Linked DNA regions of Homo sapiens. The protein of the gene in region 3 purifies or fractionates together with the protein of the main gene of each other region. This does not show direct contact. Each region holds a gene or a part of one and is shown on either strand. Other genes may lie near its edges.

Region 1 (3,500 bases), on a different chromosome or scaffold from region 3:
TCCACCCCTACCCTCAACAGATTATGGTAACTTCGTAGGCTGGAGTATTCAAACTTTTTCAATTTGAAAAGGAAACCTTCTCATCAAAATATAGACTGATTTGATGGCAAATATCTTTTTCTATTTTAAATTTTGAGTAGATTATTTGAATTAAGCCTAGCTTCATGTCTTAAACACACTGAATTCCTTTATGATTTAAGAGAGGAATTAGTGAATTCCTTATCTTTGTAGGAAATAATACTTTCAGTTAAAAGAATAGGTGTGCTACCTGAACTATGTGTTTTTATCTTTTTATTCTATAGATTTTATCTTGTAAATCTAACCATTTGACAGCATTTTTCTAATTCACTCTTCAGAGAAAAAATTTTTTAATTGGAATCGTTATAAATACAGATGTTTCTAAAGGGTTCTACATCCATGCTAGATTTTCATGCTGACTTAAAAAAAAATTATTTCTTCATCCTCAGATCATCATGCATGTATTTTGCACCTACCTTGATTCCAGATTACCTCCACATCCGAAGTATCCCGACGGAAAAACTTTTACTTCTCAGCACTTTGTTCAGACACCAAATAAACCAGGTATAAACCTCTCCTAAAAGAATGTGTTGAGATTTTCACACAAAATATCTCTGGGGGTTTGGTTTTTTAATGCAGCATATTGCCTTCCTTTACAGATGTTACAAATGAGAATGTTTTTTGCATTTATCAGAGTGCTATCAACCCTCCCCATTATGAGCTCATCTACCAGCGTCATGTATACAACCTGCCAAAGGTATTTCTATATAGAGAAGATGCTGTTACAGAATGTCTTGGGTGATTTGCTTGGATGATGTTTTTAAAATTATAATCTCATGTTAATAGAAGAAGTAAATTTTTTAAATTGGAAATGTGTTTCCTACATATATATTTCTTACTATAAAAGTAATATGTGCTTAATTTGGGGAAAGTATAAAGAAAAAGAAGGAAAATCACTCATTCCATTACCTGAGGCAGTCATTGTTGATTTTTTGATTGGTATATTGCCTTTTGGTAAATTTCATTTTGGTCTTATGTCTCTTTTTAGAGGCAGAGTCTAGCTCTGTCACCCAGGCTGGAGTGTAGTGGCATGATCATAGCTCATTGTAGCCTTGAACTCATGGGCTCAAGAAGTCCTTCCACCTCAGCCTCCCAAGTAGCTAGGACTACAAGCACGTACTAGTATACCTGGCCAATTTATTTTTTGTAGAGACAGAGTCTCTCCATGTTACTCAGGCTGGTCCTGTGCACCTGGCCCTTTCTTTATATTTTTTATGGGCTAAAATTATTTATGTAGTTTTATATCTGCTTTTAAATATTAGCTTTATAACATAATTTTCCATACTATTAAAAATCTTCATAAAAATTCCTTTTTTTTTTTTTTTTTTTTGAGATAGAGTCTCACTCTGTTACCCAGGCTGGAGTGCAGTGGTGCAATCTTGGCTCACTGCAACCTCTGCCTCCCGGGTTCCAGCAATTCTCCTGCCTCAGCCTCCCAAGTAGCTGGGATTACAGGCACCCGCCACCACACCCGGCTATTTTTTTGTATTTTAGTAGAGATGGGGTTTCACCATGTTGGCCAGGCTGGTCTCAAACTCCTGAGCTCAGGCAGTCTGCCCACCTCGGCCTCCCAAAGTGCTGGGATTACAGGCATAAGCCACCATGCCCGGCCTAAAAATACTTCTTAATGGCTATAAAAAAAACTTCACTAGTATAATTTATTCAACCATTTCTCTACTGTTGTACATTTTCTGTATTTCTTATTTTTTATTATAAATACTACTGAAAAGGTAGAGGCAGGCAGATCACGAAGTCAGGAGATCGAGACCATCCTGGCTAACACAGTGAAACCCTGTCTCTACTAAAAATACAAAAAAAATTATCCGGGCATGGCAGCATGCACCTGTAGTCCCAGCTGCTGAGGAGGCTGAGGCAGGAGAATGGCGTGAACCCAGGAGGCGGAGCTTGCAGTGAGCCGAGATCACGCCACTGCACTCCAGCCTGGGTGGCAGAGCAAGACTCCGTCTCAAAAAAATAAATAAAATAAAATAAATAAATACTGCTGAAAATGTATCTTCATGCATACAGCTATCTGCATTTCTTTAGTCCAGAGTTCTAAAAGTGGAATTCTAGGTCAAAATATTTTTAAGACTTTAAAAATAACATGTTACCAAATTACTTTATAATAAAGGTTATTGTATCAATTTATACTTCCATTAATGTGCTTTACTTTTTTTTTGAGGTAGTCTTGCTGTGTTGCTTAGGCTAGTATCACATTCCTGGGTTCAAGCAATCCTGACTCAGCCTCTTGAGTAGCTAAGATTACAAGCACATACAGATTTTTTACTCTTTTTTTGAGACAGAGTCTTGCTCTGTCACCCAGGCTGGAGTGCAGTGGTGTGATCTCGGCTCACTGCAACCTCCGCCTCCCAGGTTCAAGCGATTCTCCTGCCTCAGCCTCCTGAGTAGCTGGGACTACAGGCGCGTGCCACCACGCTTGGCTAATTTTTTTTGTATTTTTAGTAAGAGACGGGGGTTTTACTGTGTTAGCCAGGATGGTCTTGATCTCCTGACCTCGTGATCCGCCTGCCTTGCCCACCCAAAGTGCTGGGATGATAACAGGCATGAGCTGCCACACTGGTTTTTTACTCTTAATTACAAGCATCAGTTCTGTTGATAACCTTTACAATTATTTTTGTTACCAGCATCTTTACTAAGAAATTTTACATTGGCTATAATAATAAATTGTGCTGTCTATCAGATTCTCAGGAAGAGATGTTAATTTCATTTCTTCAAGTTTAATATTTTAGCTTTGTATGTAAATACTTTGGGCCATTGAAGTTCTTGTGAATATCCATGCCAATCTTTGTTTTTTAACCACCATCTGTTTTTTTTTCCTTGTTCTTACAGTGTAAACATTATCTTTTAAAAATCATACATTCTCTCAGATTCTTGAGTTAAAAACACATTAAATTAGAGTAAGTGGGGAAAAGTTAATCTGTAAATTGAAAATCTAAATTAGGAGCTGTTTTTACAGACCAAAAATTACATATAATAGTTTGATTTTAGAGCTAGCAATATGCTGCCTAGTATTCCCTTGCAGATAAAATAAATTTATATTTAATATGTTATTTGTATGCTAAAGTATATTCTGATATATTTTAAAGTATGACTAAAAGCTTTTTTTATCCCAACACTTGTTTATGCCATTATAGACCATTTTTATATGTGTAGTGTACAGGGGCACCAACCTCAGAATAGCTCTCCAGGCTCTTCCAGACCTTAGTAAGTGTTTCTCCCCATGTGTGAAACACAGTCCCCCAGCTCCCCACCCCCCAGTATGTTACCTTTCTGCTCATCTTTCAGGTTGCAGCTTAAAATACAAAAAAAAAATTAGCCGGGCATGGCGGTGGGCGCCTGTGGTCCCAGCTACTTGGGAGGCTGAGGCAGGAGAATGACGTGAACCCAGGAGATGGAGGTTG
Region 2 (3,500 bases), on a different chromosome or scaffold from region 3:
TGGAGTGGAATGACACTGGAGAGGTTCGCAGGGCCCTGTTCATGTAAAGCAATAAAATAAAGGCATCAGAATTCATTTTAAGTCTTTGGGAAGCCAGTGAAGAGGTTTAAGTTACGAAGTCATGTGATCTGGGTTGTGTGTTAAAAGTATCCCTCTGGCTTCTTTGTGAAGAGGAGGTTGGGAGGCAGAGGGTGAGCCAAGAGGTGGGGTCAGTCTTCCGGGTCAGAGATGACCATGGCCCAGACCAGGCTGATGGCAGTGCAAGAGCAGAGAAGTCTTTCCTCTTCTCCATCTCCAAATTACTGAATTATTTCAGGCCCTCATTCTATCTCATATTGACCTTTGCAAAAGCCCTCCTGGGGCACACCTCTGGGTTTATATGCTCCTAATCTGTCCTCCACACTGCCTGCCAAATAAATTTTGCCCCTCTTCTGCTCAGAGACTCCAACTGCCCAGCCCCCATTCACCCCCATTGTCTTATAAAGTTTCTCAAAAAGATGTGAAGGATATGTCACAATGACCCAGGAGCAGTTTCAAATACTCCTGACCTGGTTCCACCTGACATACAGAGCCATGATCTCTATATTTTTAAGCAATTCTCCAAGAGGTGCAAATAAACTACTCTTTTATCTTCCCTGTCACCCCCAGAAACCCAGGCCTAAAAGAAATAACTTAGCTAAACCCAAGATCTGTCCAGAATTGCCACAGCTGGCCTAATTTCCGCTCACACTCTATATCTCACCATCTCCTTCCTGTTATATCTTTTATGTTCTTCCTTCAATTTGGAAGGAGAGAAAATATCTTCTTGCATTTTCTAGGAGGGCAAATAGGTAAATAGGTGATTATAAGACAACAAGGTGGATACTTTGGTACAGGGCTGAATTATCAAAAGATGTCAGAAAAGGTAGTAAGATTCATTCTGAATCCTCCAGTAAGTGGAACAGGGTTTATAAAATAAGATTTTGATGAATTAATGAATGAATCAATGAATGAATGATGACTAGAAACAATAACCATTACTTGAGGAAAAGAACAGAAGCATGTTCCTTCTTTTAGCTGCATAGATGGTATAAAACAGTGATTACTTTAGAATAAGGAAGGACCGTTTAAATTAAGACTTCTTTTAAGGCAATGTGCTCCAAATGAAAAAGGACTCCACTAGTTGGGAAAGACATTTTATTTCCAAGTTTCTAAGAGTGTTCTACAAACAATAGAGGCTTAACGAAAAAATAAAAGGTAAAAAAAAAAAAAAAAAAGAAAAAGAAAAACAAGTATTCTTAACTACTGAAAAGTAAACAGCCTTTTTAAAAAAGACTTCAACATAAAAATGCGAAAATGTAGTTGTCATCTCTAATCCAAATACATTCCTAGAGAAAAGGATCATCCATGGTGACAGGGTTACTTACAGCTGTATACTTATTTAAATGCTATTCATATTCCTTTTGAGTTATTTCTTCATTGCAAATTCAATTGGAGATCTGTGCAAATCTAGCAAAATATTCTTTGGATTACAAAAACTATATAAAAAAATGAACACAACCTGCAATTATGGAAGTATTGAGAATGTGTAATCCTTCACTGAGATGAAAGATTCTAAAGTGACATTGTCCACAAAATGTATTCCATTGAAGTGTTCAGCCCAATTTGATTTCAATGCAAAGTAAAATGGAAGTGAGCACTTCATAAAAAACATTTCTTTGTATGCATGTTGACTAAATCATAAAAATAGTACATAACATGATATCAAGAAATGCTTGAAACAAACTTTCACAATAAAGTCAGAAAAAAACTGTAAAAATTGTCTGCAATCCAAGAAAAAGCACGTGCCCTGTGTGTAGGGGGAAAGAGGGAAAGCACTTGCAGTGTGACTTTATGTGGTCTTTCCCCAAGTATTGCTACGTTTTGACCTTTGGCCCAACTGAACAGGTGAAATGCCCTTCACATAAGTTTCAATCCCCAAGAAACTAGCTGGAATGCAGGGGACTGTAGACACACTCCTGGACCAAATGGCATCGACTCTCAGAATCCAAAATGGTCCCTGCCCTCATTCTGAGCTTACGGCCCCAAGCATATTCTAAACAAAGCTTTTTTAAATGAATCGCCCATTCTCATTAAAACATAAAATGCCACATCATTTTACAATTAGTTAAAATTACAGGAGGAAAAATAAGCAGTTTCAACTATCAAGAGTCTTACAATAGCCTGGTAAGTTCAACAGAAGAAAAAATAGAATAACATTAGAGTCTGGGCAAATTTATATTTTTGACTCTAGTCCCCCAGTTCCCCAGTGCTCAGTGTGGGGCATAGAATGTATACCTGGAACATTAGAGTTCTGATAGCTCCATTCCCTCATGGATTCATCTCTCATAACCATCAAATTACTGATATACAAGATAAATGCATACTATATAACACATATTGCAAAGTCATAGACTGACCTAGTTCTTTCACATCCTTCTTTTTTAGAAGATGTGTGTGAAGAGAAGCCAGGAGGTTAACACCAAGAATGTACAAAAAAGCTTTACATGATGTTACAGAATCTTGTCTGAAAAAACATTTGTAAAACATATTTGATTTTAAATAAACAATAAAAGCAGCAGACAGACAACAACAGATCATAAATAGGGTTATTAAAAGATCACAATTAAATTAGAAATATAAATGGATCATTAGAAATACTTAACGTTTGTTTCAATGTTAAGAATCAAACCCAGAATTAAAAAAAAATCTTTTTTTATTTCAAAGATTGCTTCTTATATTGAAGCTCATATTAAAGCAACAGTACAATGTTCATAAAATATAAGTGTGATGCCGTAACATTTTCTTACATGTCAGAATACTGATATTTATACGTATACTAAAATAAGAACTTTAAAATTGTACAAATAGATACATTAAAAATGACATAGAAATAGGGCGTCTCTCACTGAAACAAGACAGTTATATCTGGCACGTATTAGTTTAAGATGAAAGTAGAAGCAAAAAGATTTACAAGAATCAGCAGTAACAAGATTGATGCTCAAGAGACATAATTGTACATTGTATTGTACATACATTGTATGGGTTTAAGCTGGCTGAATATTATATATTTCAAGTTTAAAAATGCACTACATATAGAGTGTCCAGAGTTTAAGGCGAAATTACAGCTCAGAACTGTTGTCCTTTCTAATTTTGTGGAAGCTTCTTTGACAACTTAAAAAAGAAGAAAGACTTGGATGTTCATAACACATAAACAATTTCCCTTCATTGTCAGTTCAGCGTTAGACTTCTCCTTCACTTAAATATTTTGTATGCCAAGTGTTTTTTTTTTCTAGCGAAGTTGATAAACAACTTCAATATTTGCCTTTTTGTGAGAAAAGGTATTTCACAGTATTTACCACTTTGATGTCCTCGCAGTTTTATTAAATGTATCCTCTCTGTAAAACTTTGCCTGTTTTAAATGAGCCTTTCCTTGATTTAAAAAAATACCTGTTTACACATCTTCTAGATTCTTGAGAACG
Region 3 (4,271 bases):
GCACGTTGGAGAGGAGCCAGAAGCAGAACGCCACCCTGCCGGGGAGTGGGGGGACCCGCTGTGAGCGGGCTTCTCCCAGCCCACCGGGGTTCCCACAGCTGCGCTCTTCTTTATCCCTACCCCAGCGTCAAAGCCAGGGACTGGGATGGCAGCGGTGCAGGGGAATTCCCCGGGGGAGAAGCGGGCTCCTGAGGTCCAGGCGGTGGCTGGAGTCTCTCCGGATTCCGTCTGTGCAGATCTCGTGGATCTTCTAACCCGCGAGGCTGTCATGCCCACCCCGAGCGCGTCGGGTCTGGCTGCAGCTGCTCAGCGCCTCCGAGGCCTGCATCCTCCCGCTCATACGGCCCAGCTCCTGGCACACACACACGTGCACACAGCCTTCCCTCCAGCACTTACCATAGCGTGGCCGAGGCGTAGTGTCCCGCCAGGTGGTACTGGTGGTACAGGCCGCAAGGGCTACTCGGTGTGAACTTCTCCGCCAGGTAGAGCACTGGGTCCGGCAGCCCCTTCTCCAGTGCGTTCGCGTACTCCGCGGCGTAATTCTCTTTCAGACGCCAGGTGAACTGCTCGTTGTAGTCAATGGTCTCGTTCAGCTGATGCACTGGGGTCCCTGTGGGGTGAGGCGGGCTCATGGGGCTGCCCGCGGTCGGAGACCTCGCAACTAAGCGGATTCAGACAGGAAAGTGGGGGTGTGGCGCTCTCGGCGGGAGAAATGGGTTCGGTGGTGGTTGGAGAAAACGCAAATCCACGAGGACCACAAGCTATTTGAGCTTGTGGGATGTGAGAGGCCCTCCAGCTATCCCTGACACACTCACCTAACCGGGGATCTCCCAGCTCCAGGAGTTCATTTAGCCCCAGCCCCCTCACCTGTGAGTGTAATATTAATGCCCTCCAGGCCCACGAGCAGACGGACACGGGCTGTAACGCGCGCTGCGCTGAAGGCTTTGTAGGATGTGTTGGTGTTCACTGTACCCACGAACCATTCTGCACTGAAGTGCACAGCTGTAGGGAAAGGCACACGGTGGGGGTGGGATGAGGGTGGGAAAATGGAATTAGAGAGTGGTATGGGAGGTGGGACACTGCAGAGAGATGGGGACTTAGAGGTCCAATGTGGTTGCATGGTAAGGGCCAAAAAGTGGGCCCTAGAAGGAGCTGGAGAGTGGGAAGAGGGAGCAGAAAACCAACCCCAGTTCCCTATTGTCCCAGGTGCCCTCTGCCCACCTCCTTCCTCACCCCGTCCTCTCCCCATGGGCTGCACCACACACTCACCCACAATTTCTGCGCCTATGAACAGACTGAGAAGAACTCTCACCAACCAAAACCAGCGCTGCAGGAATAGGCACCCGGGTCAGGCCTGAGCCCTGCCAAACCAGAGTCCCCAAGACCACCCTTGACCCCACTTCACCTGGATCTTTAGTTATATCCAGACTTTTGAGACTAATGTTAGGCACGCTTTTCCTGCAAGTCCCTCTGGGCTACTGGCATTTCTGATATTTTGTGACCACGCACTTTCACCTCCCTAGCCCCATTTCCCATCTACCCTAACAGCACCTCCCCTCCACCCCCACTTCCTGGCACTCTTCCACCACCTTCACTCCCCTAGCTGTCTGGCGCCTGGTCCTGGTTCTGCCTCCTGGTCCAGTCACTGCTTGGTGAGGCTCAGTGAGTCCAGAAGTGCTAGGCACGCAGGGGTCACCTCCCTCAGAAGAGGGAGGCCCCAGCCTGATCTCCGAGGGGAGGAGGTGGGAATGCAGATACTCCTAGGTGCACCAGTTCCAGGGAAAGCAACACAGATTAAGATGCAGAAAAGCTGGGTCCTCCCAGAACTGAAAAATGCACAACCTAGGTTCTGGGAGAGGGGGAAAGTCTAAGACAATGCACCCAGTTGGCTCCAACTTCTAATCCAATGTGGGAGTCTCAGTCCTGAGGATGAGGCACCCATACACATGTGTCTCAACCCAGTGCAAAGGGGAACACTGCAGTCTGAGCTGCTGGCATCTGTCCTTTTGGCCTGAAGGTCATCACCCACCGGATGGGATGAGAGTGCAGCTTTAGTCCTGGGAGAGGTGGGAGGCCCTCCAGCACAAGAAGCCTAGACTGTTCCTCAGGATTACTGGACTGGGTGCCCATTCTCTGCAGCAGCCTTCCCAAGGACCCAGCTGGGGTCCTTCTCCAGGATATCCTGGATGGGGAGCTCTCCCTATCCTTGGAAAGGGGTGCTTGCTGCACCAGACTCCTGACTTCACTCCACCTGAGCCTCAATTCGACTATTCATGGAGGCTCTTGTACAGTCTTACCTGTCCTGGGTCCCTCAGGAGACAATCTGCCCATGAGCCTTCCCCCACTCTACCTGCACTATGAGGACACCCTTACCGAGTGGCCACGGATCCCCGGCAAGATGAGCAGGAAGCTTGCTGCTAGAGCCAAAAACACTAGAATAACGATGAGCAGTGGAACGCTGAAGCCTGCGGCATGCCGGGGCTGGGGGTAAAAAGGCAGTACGCCGTTCCACAGGGTCATGCTGCACGCCGGCCGAGTGCTGCACGCAGGCGGGCAGGCAAGCCAGCAAGCTGGGGCTGCCTGGACGCGGGAGAGCGCGTCCTTGGCGTCTCTTTGCGTACAAGGCTGGGACCGAGTGGGCTGGTGAAGTCTGAGTCCTGCACCTCTCCGTTAAGGAAGCGTGGAGGTGGGCTGCTCTCAACGCTCTGGGGTTGGTACCGACAGAGTTTTTCTAGCCGGCGAGCGAAACTATTTCTCACTGTCTGTAGCCGTTACTTTCCTGGTTCTGCGGGTTGGCGCTGAGTTTGGAAGTCGCGCGGGACCCCTTTTATAGCAGCGTGGGCGACGTGCCACACGGGTGTCCCAGCCCAGGGGCTGGTCTGAGCTGGAAGAGGTTGTGCAAATAAGGGCCCCACCTCCACGGCAGGAGGGTGAGCCCTAGGTCCAGATGCTCACACTGGCGCAGGTCTGTCCTGAGCCGACACCTGCACAGTGGCGAGACCAAGGACCCAGAGAGAAAGGTGAGAGTGCAGCCGGGGAGGCTGAGGATCGGCGGAGCTGGAAGAGTGAGGGTGAAGGCAAGAAGTAGAGCACAGAAGCAAAGATTTTAAGAGGAAAGAAGACATCTGAACCCAACACCACCCTAAACCACAGGTTAGACCAGAGTTTGGGATCTGACCCTAGCCCTCGCCCATCATGCACAGGCGTTCATTGCAGAAGGGGAGTTTATTGGGGAAGGGGGGATTCATTGTGGAAGGGTGCTGCAGTCCCTCACTCCCAGGTCAGTAACCTTTTTCCCTTCCCTGCCTCCTGGAGGAGAAGCGGAGCCTGACGGATCGGGGGCGGGTGGAGGTGAAACATTGGAGACATTGGGCACACCCTGGGAGGCTTGACCAGTCCTGCCCTGGACTGACATGCCCCAGAAGACTCCTGCCCAGTGGGTTCCTATGGTCGGGGGTTAACTCTCTGATGGGGTGGCGGATGGGGAACAGTGTCAATGCCTCCAGAGCTGCCAATTGTCCTGGAAAGAGTGGCGTTTGGATGAAGGTCCTCGGTGATGCTTCTAACAGCTACCTTCCAGAAGTGGAAACAGCTGGTGCTCCTCCTCCAGTACTAGCTGTAGGAACAAGAGGGGAGGCATAGAGGACGCCCTAACAGTGGCTTTCGCATACCACCTACCACCCCCACCCTCACCCCGCAGGCTGCAGGGTTGGCATGCTCCGTGCAAGACCAGAGGCACTGATGCTCCTGGGAGCTCTTCTGACTGGATCCCTGGGTCCATCGGGCAAGTATCAGGCTCCTCTAGCGGCGGGGTGTTCCCCAGGATCCCTGGGAGGTGGGGCGGGGAGAGGTGCGGCAAGCGGCTCCCTGAGACTGGAAGGTCATTTCGCCGTGCAGCTCAGCGGGATGGGAAACTTCCCAGTGCGGCCCGACACTTGGGTCCGGTTAGGGGCGCTCCGCGAGCTGGGGAAGGACTGGCCAAGGCCTTCGTTGCTCGGGAGGGGTAGCTGGGAGCGTAGTGCTGAGGAGGCCCTTCTCTGTGCCCACAGGCAGTCAGGACGCACTCTCACTGCCCTGGGAAGTGCAGCGCTATGACGGCTGGTTTAACAACCTGAGGCACCACGAGCGTGGTGCTGTTGGTGCGTTCTGGGGGCCCGGGCGTGCTGGGGCCGTGGCTCGCGAAGGGCCGGGGCGCGAAAGGCCCTGAGCGGGGAATCTGCGGGGAACACGCGCCCAGCAGCTCCGCTGCCTACACAGCGCAATCTTATGCG
Region 4 (3,500 bases), on a different chromosome or scaffold from region 3:
CAGACTGCAAAGACAGGTACAGGAGCAGGGAGGCCAGGGAGGAGGCTGCTGGGACATCCAGGCTGGAGGGGACGGAGGCTGAATCAGGGTGAGGAAATGGAGGGGGAAGAGTTTAGATTCTGGAGAGATTTTGCAGGTTTAGCTGACAGGATTTGCTGAGAGATTGGATGTGGCGGTGAGGGAAAGAGAGCTCAAGGAATATCCCGAGGCATTTGGCCCAAATCACTACAACTTCGGAGCTGCCCTTGACCCAGATGGGGGCGGCAGGGAGGAATGGGTTTGGGGAAAGACCAGGAGGTCAGTTTGGGACTCAGCTGTCTATGTTGAGCTGAGCCCATGTGGAGCTGGGGTGCAGCAGCCGAATGGAAGAGGTTCAGGGGCATGGTCTGGTTAAGACGTCAGTCTGTGAGTAGACAGGGCTCAGGCCGCCGGGAGCGTTGCCCAGGTAGTGGGCATGGGTGGAGAAGGACCGAGGGCTGAGTTGGCTGGCATTTGGGCTGGGCGGGTGGTGTATGGGGTATCCAGGGAAGCCATGGGGGGTAGGGAACCCATCTGTTTTGTCTGTGAGTGACAAGGGGCCCTCTCTGAATTAGGGGAAGGAAAAAACTCAGCTTGTGGGACGGGGCAGCCAGGGCTGGAGTCAGACCCTTACCTCCTTCCCCTGATCTCCCAACCCCAGAGTGTCTTCTGAGATCCGCTACCGAAAGCAGCCGTGGAGCCTGGTGAAGTCGCTCATTGAGAAGAACTCGTGGAGCGGCATTGAAGACTATTTCCACCATCTGGGTAGGGACAGAAGGCCGGCTGGGGCGTGGGTTGGGGGATGGCCTGGCCAGGTATGGACATCCAGAGCCCCCTCTCTTTTACGCAGAGCGAGAGCTCGCCAAGGCTGAGAAGCTGTCTCTGGAGGAAGGCGGGAAGGATGCCCGGGGCTTGCTATCCGGCCTGCGGCGGCGGAAGCGGCCCCTGAGCTGGCGGGCTCACGGGGACGGGCCCCAGCACCCAGATCCTGACCCCTGTGCCCGGGCCGGCATTCACACCTCGGGTACGTTCCGTTGGGGCCGGGTTGGGGTAGGCGGAGGATCGGGGGTCCTGGACTGGGCCATCTGACTCCAAGCTGCTCTCCTGCAGGCTCCCTCAGCTCCCGCTTCTCCGAACCATCTGTGGACCAGGGCCCCGGGGCAGGCATCCCCAGTGCCCTGGTTCTCATCAGCATTGTGTGAGTAAGAGACAGGAGCAGTGGCCACACAGGCCTGAACCTGCCTCCTGGCTGTGTGACCTTGGGCAAGTGTGTGGCCTCTTTGAGCTCTCTGCTTAAGTGGGAGCGTGGGTTTGCTCACAGCAAGGATTAGACAAGGCAATGTTTGGGATGTGCCGGTTTGTCATGGAGAAGCCTTCCCTGCTAGAACAGCAGAGCCGGGGGGGGCTATGGGAGATCAGAGGGGCCTGACCTCACCCAAGGATCAAGGGGGGCTTTCTGGAGGAGCAGGCACACAAAGATTCTGGAATTAGGTGCACAGGGAGAGGTGTGCCTAACAAGTGAGGTCATTTATGGACATTATGTTCTCTGTGCCCACTCCTAAGCTGGGCGATGCTGAGGACACCGCAGTGACCTTGAGGAAAAGATAGACCTCACACCAGACCAGAGTGATCCGGGCTGGGATGGGGGAGGTATGGGCAGAGGGGTTGGGGCTGGGAGTGGGGAAGCCCTGGGAGGCCAGCGGCGGCTTCCTCCCAGGCCAGAGGGGGCAGTCAGGATGGGCGTCCTGAGAGAGTGGAGACCGCGTAGGCTAAGGGCTTGGGCAGGGAGAACCCACACTCCTGCCCAGAAGCCTGCAGGAGTTGGCGGGCAGGACGCTGGGAGGAAACAGAAGCAGGATCCCGGGGTTGAGCAGACCCTGCGAGGTGAGGGTCAGGCCAGCTACATGCTCAGCCTCTGAGCCTCAGCTCTCAGCTCTCATCCAGTGAGGGGGCGTGGTGCTCTCAGCCAAGAGCTGCCCCGGGTGAGGAGGGCTGGGGGTGTCGGGGGCAGGCCAGGCGGCGCTCATCTCTCTGTCTCCCCTCACTGCTGCTGCTGCAGGATCTGTGTGAGGTAGGGTCCCGAGTCCTCCCCCTGCCCTCCCCTCCCTGCACCCCACCCCTGCTGCAGCCTCTTCTCCCCACCCCATGCCCCCCAGCTCCCCCAGGGAGGTGGCCTGGCATGGCAGTCAAGGGTATGGGCATCAGACAGACCTGGGTTTGAACACTGACTTCCCTGCTATGGACTGTGCAACCCTAGGCATGTCTCTCATCCTCTCTGAGCCTAATTCTCCTCCTCTGCAATGGGGGATAGAGGTGTCCCTACAAGATGTAGTTGTTTGGGGGTGTTCAGAGCATCTAGACCCCAGGAATCCTGACCTCTGACCCCTGTCCCCAGCCTTATCATCCTCATCGCCCTCAACGTCCTGCTCTTCTACCGCCTCTGGTCCCTGGAAAGGACAGCCCACACCTTTGAGTCCTGGCACAGCCTGGCCCTGGCCAAGGGGTGAGTGGGTAGCCTGGGGAAATGGGGGGGCTTGGGCACATCGGGGGAGGCCAAGGCCCTGCTCAGGCCTGGCATCCCCACAGCAAGTTCCCCCAGACGGCCACAGAGTGGGCCGAGATCCTGGCGCTGCAGAAGCAATTCCACAGCGTGGAGGTGCACAAGTGGAGGCAGATCCTGCGGGCCTCCGTGGAGCTCCTGGATGAGGTAGGAGGCGCCGCTCGGGCAGGGCTCGGGGCTGCGGGGCTGCAGGGTCCTGTGTTGAAACCCCACCGTGCGGCAGGCACTTCCCCTCTCCGGATCTCAGTGTCCTCCTCTGTAAAATGAGGAAGCCGCTCAGAGTCCCCACCCCACAGCATTGCAGGGGAAAGCATGGAAGCATGGATGGAAGACAGAACTGATTGGCTCACGTCCTGGAGAAAAGTCCAGAGGCGTCTCACATTAGGCACGGCCGGGTTTGGTCACTCAATGGCAGTAAGAGTCAGTCTCTCGTGCCCACTCTGCCCTGTGCCCATCTCCAGGGTTGGCTTCATTGGAGGCCACCCTTTTCCCCCCACAGGGGACCACGGAGCTTACTCTCATTGGCTGCTGGGGTCCCAGGCCTACCCCTGACACATCACAACAGCCAGGGCAGGCCACGTGTGGTCCCTCTACCCGCTACCCCACTCTGGGGTAACTAAGGGGTCACATGGTCTGAAGGGGAGAGACTCTCCAAAGGACCTGAGGTCTCATCTCCAAAACGGAGTGGACCCAGACACCCAGTGTAGTTCAGGGACAATGTCTACTCAGACAACCAGGTTCCAATTCCGGTGTGTGACCTCGTGCAAGTGATTTTGCCATGGTGGCCGTGGACTCCTCTGTGCACAGGATAATGACTGATGCTACCTCAAAGACTGTTGTGAGGATGAGACAAGTTGACATTGGGAGTGGTGCCAGGCCTGCAGGAAACACTGGATGTGGGCTGGCTGTCCTGAGTTTGAGC

What was found. The genes of interacting proteins can lie anywhere in the genome.
Region 1: the proteins of DUOXA2 (region 3) and TMEM209 purify together in Homo sapiens (affinity purification with mass spectrometry; one large-scale study listed by BioGRID and IntAct). This does not show direct contact.
Region 2: the proteins of DUOXA2 (region 3) and CDH11 purify together in Homo sapiens (co-immunoprecipitation; one large-scale study listed by IntAct). This does not show direct contact.
Region 4: the proteins of DUOXA2 (region 3) and GRAMD1A purify together in Homo sapiens (co-immunoprecipitation; one large-scale study listed by IntAct). This does not show direct contact.

Annotation. Positions count from the first base shown.
Region 1 is NC_000007.14:130,170,907-130,174,406, reverse strand, and holds part of TMEM209 (transmembrane protein 209), read left to right. Parts: intron 1-467; coding exon 468-582; intron 583-677; coding exon 678-775; intron 776-3,500. UniProt on the Homo sapiens protein: Nuclear envelope protein which in association with NUP205, may be involved in nuclear transport of various nuclear proteins in addition to MYC.
Region 2 is NC_000016.10:64,944,064-64,947,563, forward strand, and holds part of CDH11 (cadherin-11 isoform 1 preproprotein), read right to left. Parts: 3' UTR 1-3,500. UniProt on the Homo sapiens protein: Cadherins are calcium-dependent cell adhesion proteins. They preferentially interact with themselves in a homophilic manner in connecting cells; cadherins may thus contribute to the sorting of heterogeneous cell types.
Region 3 is NC_000015.10:45,112,855-45,117,125, reverse strand, and holds the start of DUOXA2 (dual oxidase maturation factor 2), read right to left. Parts: upstream 2,801-4,271; 5' UTR 2,521-2,800; coding exon 2,374-2,520; intron 1,328-2,373; coding exon 1,270-1,327; intron 1,003-1,269; coding exon 868-1,002; intron 662-867; coding exon of another isoform or gene 611-661; coding exon 397-610; intron 36-396; coding exon 1-35. Other genes in the region: DUOX2 (dual oxidase 2 isoform 2 precursor), read left to right, coding at 3,715-3,784, 4,050-4,139. UniProt on the Homo sapiens protein: Required for the maturation and the transport from the endoplasmic reticulum to the plasma membrane of functional DUOX2. May play a role in thyroid hormone synthesis.
Region 4 is NC_000019.10:35,020,823-35,024,322, forward strand, and holds part of GRAMD1A (protein Aster-A), read left to right. Parts: intron 1-679; coding exon 680-783; intron 784-868; coding exon 869-1,042; intron 1,043-1,128; coding exon 1,129-1,216; intron 1,217-2,077; coding exon 2,078-2,089; intron 2,090-2,413; coding exon 2,414-2,521; intron 2,522-2,604; coding exon 2,605-2,725; intron 2,726-2,874; coding exon of another isoform or gene 2,875-2,919; exon of another isoform or gene 2,920-2,963; intron 2,964-3,500. UniProt on the Homo sapiens protein: Cholesterol transporter that mediates non-vesicular transport of cholesterol from the plasma membrane (PM) to the endoplasmic reticulum (ER).